3 separate regions of the Homo sapiens genome follow, and all the other regions are linked to region 2. Evidence: fine-mapped expression QTL. A gene starts in region 2. Each other region holds a variant in brackets. All regions are shown on one strand. Distances are from middle to middle. Region 1 overlaps WASHC4 (WASH complex subunit 4). Region 2 holds the start of APPL2 (adaptor protein, phosphotyrosine interacting with PH domain and leucine zipper 2). Region 3 has its middle 26 kb from the start of APPL2.

The links. PIP is the estimated chance that this variant, and not a neighbour inherited with it, causes the effect. A credible set is the group of variants that fine-mapping cannot tell apart.
Region 1: its variant is the best candidate, but not a certain one, in a credible set for the expression of APPL2 in whole blood (INTERVAL, PIP 0.89).
Region 3: its variant is the best candidate, but not a certain one, in a credible set for the expression of APPL2 in esophagus muscle (GTEx, PIP 0.57).

The regions. Positions count from the first base shown.
Region 1 is chr12:105,124,984-105,127,840 of GRCh38, forward strand. WASHC4 (WASH complex subunit 4) reads left to right here. Exons shown (of 33, transcript NM_015275.3): 11 at 1,021-1,144; 12 at 1,252-1,379; 13 at 2,146-2,306. Among named protein-coding and RNA genes, the nearest start is that of WASHC4, 19 kb to the left of the region's middle. The variant G/T (reference allele first, on the strand shown) is at 1,308.
Region 2 is chr12:105,235,010-105,237,509 of GRCh38, forward strand. It overlaps APPL2 (adaptor protein, phosphotyrosine interacting with PH domain and leucine zipper 2), which reads right to left and starts at 1,165. Exons shown (of 21, transcript NM_018171.5): 1 at 950-1,165. The coding sequence starts at 1,003. RefSeq lists silencers at 744-993, 1,044-1,183 and an enhancer at 1,048-1,548.
Region 3 is chr12:105,260,410-105,263,266 of GRCh38, forward strand. No RefSeq gene overlaps it. Among named protein-coding and RNA genes, the nearest start is that of APPL2, 26 kb to the left of the region's middle. RefSeq lists a silencer at 1,714-1,888. The variant C/T (reference allele first, on the strand shown) is at 1,545.

The DNA of each region.
Region 1 (2,857 bases), 110 kb before region 2:
ATGACTAGTTATATCAGACAGCACAGATACAGAATATTTCCATCATCACAGAAAGTTCTGTTGGAGAGCGCTGCTTTAAGCAGGTTCCACTCGAAATTGCATTATATTCCATTTATAATATACTTCAAGGTTACCTTTAGTTTATGTTTTACATGATCACAGTTTTTAACCGATTGATCTCAACTCTTGTTTACAGTTGACCCTTTGAATAACATGCTTTTGAAGTGTGCACGGGTCCACTTATATACAGATTGTTTTTCAATAAATGTATTAGAAAATTTTTTGAACATTAGCAACACTTTTGAAAAAAACTTGCAGACAAATGGCATAGCCTAGAAATATTAAAAAAACTTGAGGAAAAGTTAGGTATGTCATGAATGCATAAAATATATGTAGATACTAATCTATTTATGTGTTAATTGACTTATGTTATCCATAAGGCTTTTGGTCAACAGTGTGCTATTACTAGTTAAGTTTTTGGGTAGACAAAAGTTATATGAAGATTTTTGACTGCACGAGGGTCAGTGTCCCTAACTTTATGTTTAAGCGTCAACTATATATCAATTTAAATGTTAGTTCATTAGGTTAAGAAGATAATTTTTTTGTTATTGATTCTTTTTCCAGGAGACATTTCTATACATGCTATAATAAAGTGCTAGGAAAGTAATTGTAAGCAGAAAACATAAATTCTACTCTTAAAAGTGCAAAGTAAAATAAAAAATATGCTTTATCTTTTATACATCTCTGAACATCGTGTGTATCTCTTTATACAGGATTATAGATTTGGGTTCAATTTTATTACTTTCACATAACTAGTACCCAAATATATAAATACATATATATTTTTCATTCACAAAGATCTAAATATTAGATTAGATTAAGAACCTGAGCTTTAGTTTTAGTAAAATTTAAATGATGAATATAGAAATTTATCATACACTGTATTTAGTGTATGATATTTAAATGTTTAATCGTTTATTATTGAGAGTCTGAATTTCTCTTTCAATGTTTCCTGTCTAGGCCTGTATAGAACAACAATTTGATTCTCTCAATGGAGGAGTATCTGTGTCAAAAAATAGTACTTTTGCTGAGGAATTTGCACATAGTATTCGGTCAATTTTTGCAAATGTAGAAGCCAAACTTGGTAATGTAAATCGCATTTTTTGGTTTTTGTTTATAAAATTTGCATTTCCTTAAAAGCATAATTGAAGTATATTTGTTCTGCTTTCTCTTATGTTATTGATTTGTAAGGAGAACCTTCTGAAATTGACCAGAGAGACAAGTATGTTGGAATTTGTGGACTCTTT[G/T]TATTGCACTTTCAGATTTTTCGAACTATTGATAAAAAGTTTTATAAGTCTTTATTGGACATTTGTAAGAAGGTAAGAACTTGAAACTTATTTTTCAATTTGAGCAGATTAAAAAGATTGCAGATAAAACTAAATATTTTAAAATGCATTTTATTCCTGTTTACAAAAATAATTTAAAAGTATTCACTTGTAAAATTCAAGTATTCCAGAAATAAGTAACTTAGTGAATGAAAATACGTCGTATTTCTACATCATATTACTACATATTGGTAGATGGTGTTCAGATTTGTTCCTGTACAACTTCTCTTAGTGCTACTAATACTACTTTTTTCTTTTCCTTTTCTTTGCCACTGATTTTCATTACTGAAGATGAAGAAATTTAAAATATATTTCTTTCTATGTCTTTGCTATTTTCATAATGTGGTATCTGATTTCAAAATTGAAAGATTAGTTTGTGTGTAACATCAAGTGATAGTAACTATGATAACCCAGCCAATTTTTTAAAAAACTTATGTACTTAAATAGAATGAAACTAAAAGACATGAAGATTCAAGTTTCTATTGTTGCATTTTTTTATCTGACAGTCCATGAAAGGGTGTTTTGTGTGTGTGTTATTTAATATTCAGGTGAATAAAATTGTCATGCTCAACACCAGATGTAGAAATGCCTTAACTCTGCCACAGTGAAAGATATTTGTCTCATAATATATTAATAAGTATTTTTTGTGGTTATTTTTTCTTGAAATCAGTTGTCTTCCATGTGTATTATAGAACTTTTAAACAGCTTGTTGTTTAGCCTGCATTTAATGAATTTTCCCCTTTTCCCTTTTCTGTTTCAGGTACCAGCCATCACTCTAACTGCTAATATTATTTGGTTTCCTGATAATTTTCTGATCCAGAAAATACCAGCAGCTGCCAAACTGCTAGACAGAAAAAGTCTTCAAGCCATTAAAATACACAGGGATACTTTTCTACAACAGAAAGCTCAATCACTTACCAAGTAGGTTTTATAAACAAGTATAATGAAAATATTTAGATATCCTTTATTTTCAAAGATTATACTAACACTTAATGTATAGTACCATTTGAATTATAAGATTAAATGTACTTGATAAGTAAGGGTCAGGCAATCTCCAGGAGATTTGTTTTCTAGAAGTTTTTTGTAAAGAATATTTTACACTTAAAGTCAATTTAAGATGTAGACAGATTATACTTTATGGATACAAATGCGTACATACATAGTTTTTATCATCTGTGTTAAATATTTTTTGTCCAAATGAAGTCTCAGATTTTGTTGCAGTAGATATCATTTGATGACATTAAAAACATTCTGTGTCCATGGTGATTTTGGGAGAGGTTGAGTTTTTCTTGATGTGCTTCCTTTTTCCCCCTTCTTTTTATTTTTATGAAAATAGTATATGCATGTATATAAAACATCAAAAAGTGCTAAAGCTTAAAGGGAAAGATAATTCTTCCCAGTTCCTTCCTGTATTTCAGTCTTGCTCTCCAAAGGCACACTTTTAACTCTTTGTTTCTTCTTTTTTTTACATC
Region 2 (2,500 bases):
TATTCACTTAGAAGAAAAAGGGAAGGAACCCCAAAAGAGAGGGGAAAGTGTGAAACGAAAATAGGTTAATCTTATTCTAAGTTTTCAAGAGTTGAGACACTAGGAAATAAAGGCACTTATTTAAATAAACCCGGGATGCTGAACCAGGAGTGTAGGTACGAAGCTGGAGAAATGTTAAACAAAGGAGAACAAAAGACCCCTGGGGAAAGATGTGCTGAATTATGAACTAATGTCATCCTGCACTCATTTGCTATATTTACACACCAGTTTTCATCTGCAGAGCTCAAAGGACTTGACTCTCATCTCGAGTGTGCTAATGAAGTTCCCTTGTGCGACAAATGGGGCAGGTACTGTATTTTTCTCTTCACTAATGGGAAAACGGTGCCAAAAGGAGGCCTGGTACCGCCGGAAAAGAGATCCAGGCCCTCTGCCTCTCATTCTGGCTGGCACAAGTCTCATCACATCATTAGGAGTAGCAGTAATAAGACTGACTCATTATCTGTACCGGACATTGTCTGCTGACAACTTTACAGGTATTTCTCATTGACTTCTCCTAACAACCCTATGAAGCAGGCACAATTATTATTCCTATTTTACAGACGACAAAACTAAGGCACAATAAGGTGGTTTTCCTGAGGCACTCAGCTACTACATGGAATCAAAGTTTAGATCTCGCAGACTCAGTTGCAGCTGAGCTTGCAGGGGGGTCACGACATCAAGACTCCGGCCGCGGGGCTCTCTCCCCTGTTCCACAGCTCTGCCCCGGCTCAGGACTCAGGGCCCGGCCCGCCCCCTCCTCAGCCCGAGAGAACCCGGTGGGAGGCGCCGCGAGGGGGCCGGGCGCACTCCCGCGGCTGCCCGGCCGGGGGCGCGGCCTCCACTCCGGGGCTGGAGGGGCCTCCTCGGCCTCACCCCTGCGGGCGAGGGGCACCGGAGCGGCGGGAGGTACCTGGGGGCTGTCCTGCAACGCCTCCTCTAGCAGGAGCTTGTCCACGGCGGGCATGGTGCGGCGCGGCTCAGCCGAGGGCTGGGTTGGAAGGACAGAGGGCAGGAGACGCGGCGGCCGAGAGCACTCCCCGGCTCTGGGCTCAGGCGACGCGGCGGCCACTCCGTGCCCGCGGCGGCCCCGCGCGCGTCCACGCCTGGCCAGTGGCCGCCGCCGCCTGCCCGCCGGCCCAGCCCCCGGCCGAGCCGGATCAACAGGAAGTGTGGCGCGCCCGGCAGGGAAACCGGAAGTGTGGTGAGCTCCGGTCCCGACACCGGAAATGTGGCGCCCGCGCTTCCGCCTGCGCTCGCCGGCTCGCGGGGAGCGGGGGGCTCTGGGTGCCAGTCCCGTTGCTGAGGGAACCCTTCGGGTGTTTGTTCTCTGTGCTGAAGGTCCGTCAAGTCAATGCATATGAAGTCCAAAAGAGGAACTCGAGGGTAGAAAGATAAGGTTTTATCTGCTTATGGCTACCCAGAAAGCCTTTTGAGTTGAAGGAGCGAACAGATTTTTTCTTTTAATGGAAGGAAAAACCCACACTTCCCACACCACTTTTTCTAGATAAATTTCGACGCCCCTGAAACAGCTCTGAGAGCAAAGAGGTCGCCTATGCTATGGGAACAAAGAAAAGAGGAGAAAAGCTGGATAACTGACTCGTCTGTGATAATCAGAAATAACCACTTTGGAAACCACAGCTATTTGATGTGGTCATAATTAGGTCTCGTCCTCCTGGTTTATGTTTTGTGATTTTGGAGAATTTCATAATCAAATGTTTAGAATTGGAAGGGCTAGATAATCTAGGTTCCAGTGTTGTCATTTAGAGATGAGAAAATGGGACCCAGAGAAATAAGTGGTCTGCCCAGGGTCAGTTAGTAAACGCCAGAGGAAGAAAAGAAGGAAGGGAGAGGGATGGAAGAAGACTGGCAAGTGGAACGTGACACCTTTTTACACGGAAGGCAAGGGTTTCTGAAGTTCCTTCTTTAGAAGTTAATAAGACTGGCCGGGCGTGGTGGTTCACGCCTGTAATCCCAGCACTTTGGGAGGCCGAGATGGGTGGATCACGAGGTCAGGAGTTCAAGACCAGTCTGGCCAAGATGCTGAAACCCCGTCTCTACTAAAAATACAAAAATTAGCCGGGCGTGGTGGCATGCGCCTGTAATCCCAGCTACTCGGGAGGCTGAGGCAGAAGAATCACTTGAACCCGGGAGGCAGAGGTTTCAGTGAGCCGAGAGGGCACCACTGCACTCCAGCCTGGGCAACAGAGCAAGACTCCGTCTCAAAAAAAAAAAAAAAAATCATGCAGTATGTGTGTCACCAAAATCAACAGAGGGGATATGGTAATATATAAATTCTGCATTCTGCAGAGACCTCTTAGGTATATCAAGACCCAATCTGCATTGCTGACACCTCTGACAGTCTAGTATAGTAGCATGCTGCCTGATCACTTGAAAACTCCAAGGCCATTATTCCCTTGGTCTGGCCAGCGCCAACCTGACCTGAACCATTTTATGGCCTCCA
Region 3 (2,857 bases), 26 kb after region 2:
TCTTTTCAGTCAATAATAACATGACTTAGCATTATGCCTGACACTGATACATATGCAATAAATCTAGGCATTGGGAATGCAAAGATAAATAAGGAACAGTTCTTCCCTAAATAAAAGTGGTATAATGGCTTCTGTGCTGTACCAGTGGTAGTTTCAAAGTATTATTGGATATGGGGGAAGGGATGAGTGACTTTCTGGAGGGTCACGGTGGATGGTCTGGAAAGGTCTAACAGAGAACAGCTTTTGTTTGGGACCTTGGTGAATAAAGAGGACTTTCTTAGAAACAAGCAGATACAAGCCAAAAATCAACTGCTGGGTGCATTCCCAGCTATAGGCAAGAGGTTCTTGGCTCAAATATGTGGATTCAAGCAAAGAATTAGGAAAAAATGGAGAGGGAAAGTACTTTGCCTCCTCCCATCTATGTGCACCCAAGGAACCAGAAAAAAAAGAATGGAATACAATGGTTATTTTTTAATTTCAATAGTAAAACATGGCTAGGCCATTTATTGCTATAGTCCAAATTTTTCCTCTGAAATATTGGATACTTTTCCTGTTGAAGAACAAATCTAGCATAAGGTTAATGGGCAGAGGGTCCCATTTTTAGAAACAGGTTAAACATACTGTACTGTGGAATAAGCTAATGTATGCCTGATATGAAATTTATGCTAAAATAACTCTAAAAATCTCATTAGGAGAGTAACCAGAGATCCTGAAAAACAGCTTTAATAATGGCAATAAAAGCAATCTCACCTAGTTTAGTATTACAAATGGGGAAATGAAACTATGAAGTTAAGTAGCCTAGCAAAGCCATGGGGCATTATTATAGAAGCAGCTCAGATTTTCTCATTCCTATGAACGTTTGGTTCCCTCAGTTACTAAACCTCTTTTGCATATGGACTTTTGCATATATATAACTATATAGTTATTTCCTACACTACGTACATATAAGGTTTCAAATTACACTTTGTTTTCTATTTTGCTCCAATGTACATATAAGCTCACATGTACAACCTGAGAAAACTTAGAGTTGACTGTGACAAGTCTTGATGTCTTTCATCATGCCTTTGGATAACAATTTAAACAACAGGGACAGTGCTGTTACAAAACTAAAATTATAAATATGGAAGCCATCATATGTCAAAACTGGATGCAAAATATTTTGAAGGCATTGCTTCCTAAAAGAAAACAAAGTAACTCTAGTTCATCAGAATCCAGGGAAGAAGAGAAAACCTATCCAGCCATCTGTAGTACAGCTGAGTCTGCGACATGTGACATGTACCATCCAGCATGTGACATGTACCTTCCAGGGGTTGCTTTGGGAGCCTCGGAGAAACTTGGAGTACATACAAGAGAAAAATACAAGGTCCGTATACAAAATATGCTACTCTCAGCAGGAAAAATAAGGGCAAAATAAAATGATGTAAAAGTAGCAGCCGCTTTAGGCTTCTTTGTTCCATGTTGGGGAGGGGTTTTTTTTTAATGCTAATAAACTTGAAGGGCCCATTTTGAAATAATTTCATTATGTGACTGTCAAGAAAATGCCA[C/T]AAAAGTCTCACAGACATAAATAACTGCCATCTTCAATTTGTAAAACGTCTTATTGCCCACTGGTTTTGTATTCTAGAGAGCTTAATGCTTTTTCTCTATCCTTTTACTTGTACTGTTAATTCCCTCTGCTTTTACATTCTTAAGGAAAGGGTTTTCATTTCACAAGTCAGGTAGGGTTTTCTCAGTGTTTTGGACTTTCACATCCTGGGAACTTTTGTTTTTGACTGCTAAGAACCCATCAACCTCCTGGCTAGGGTCTTCCTGTACCCAAGCTGTGCCCAGGTTTCCAGTATAAGAGGTTGCAAAGTAACAAACTCAGTCTGAGGGGCTGGGTGGCATTGAGCATGCAGATCCAAGGTTTGACTACTGCCACTGCCACTCTGTGTGACGTTGGATAACTGACTTACCCACTCTGTGCCTCAGGGGCGTCGTTGTAAATTGGGGGTAATGAGAGTGCCTACCTCATGAGGTTACTGAGAGGATGAAGTGATTGGCTGGCACATTGTGAGTACTAGGGAAATGTTAGCTATTACCATTATTGCATTCTAATATCCCAGTAAGATATTTACGTTTGTGGCAAATATTCCTTAATATGTTCTTTAATCTGATGTGTACTGAAGTGGAGAGTTCAGTTATTGAAGTTGAAAGATCTTGGCTTGAGGCTCAACATTGCCACATTCTAAATATGTCACTTTGGGCAAAATATGGAACCCATCTGGGCTTCAGTTTTCTCAACCATGAAATATGCAGGGGATGGGGAGCTGGATAATTTCTCATTTATTCATTTAACAAATATTTGTCGAGCACTTAACATTCATCTCCAAAATCTATATGATAGTTGTAAGCATTTTATGTGGACTCGATATGATCCCAGGTGTTACTTTTGCAAGTAGAGTTGTTTGTCAGGGGTTCTCCCTCATTGCATTTTTCTCATGCAGATGAGCAGTGGATTTAATGTTTCTGTGGCTTAGGGATCTCTTTGGGTATCTGGGGAATGCAGAGCAACCTCTCCACACGCCGACATACACACAGGCCAGACAGAATTTGGGCACAACCTAGGGGCTGGCTGACAGCTTTGCAGTCTATTTGTGGCTCTCTGGGGCCCTAAGAGCAGTGTACAGATTGAGAGTTGGACCACTCAGATTCTGCCTAGCTGGGAATCCTGGAAATCAGTAGGAAAAGGAATATGGTGGCAGCTACCCATTTGAAGATCAACTGAATAAGACACGAAACACTAACACAGGCAGAAAGGTCTCTGTCAACCAGCTGGCAACTCCTGCTACAGGTGAAATCAGGGAATGAAAACTTTTTT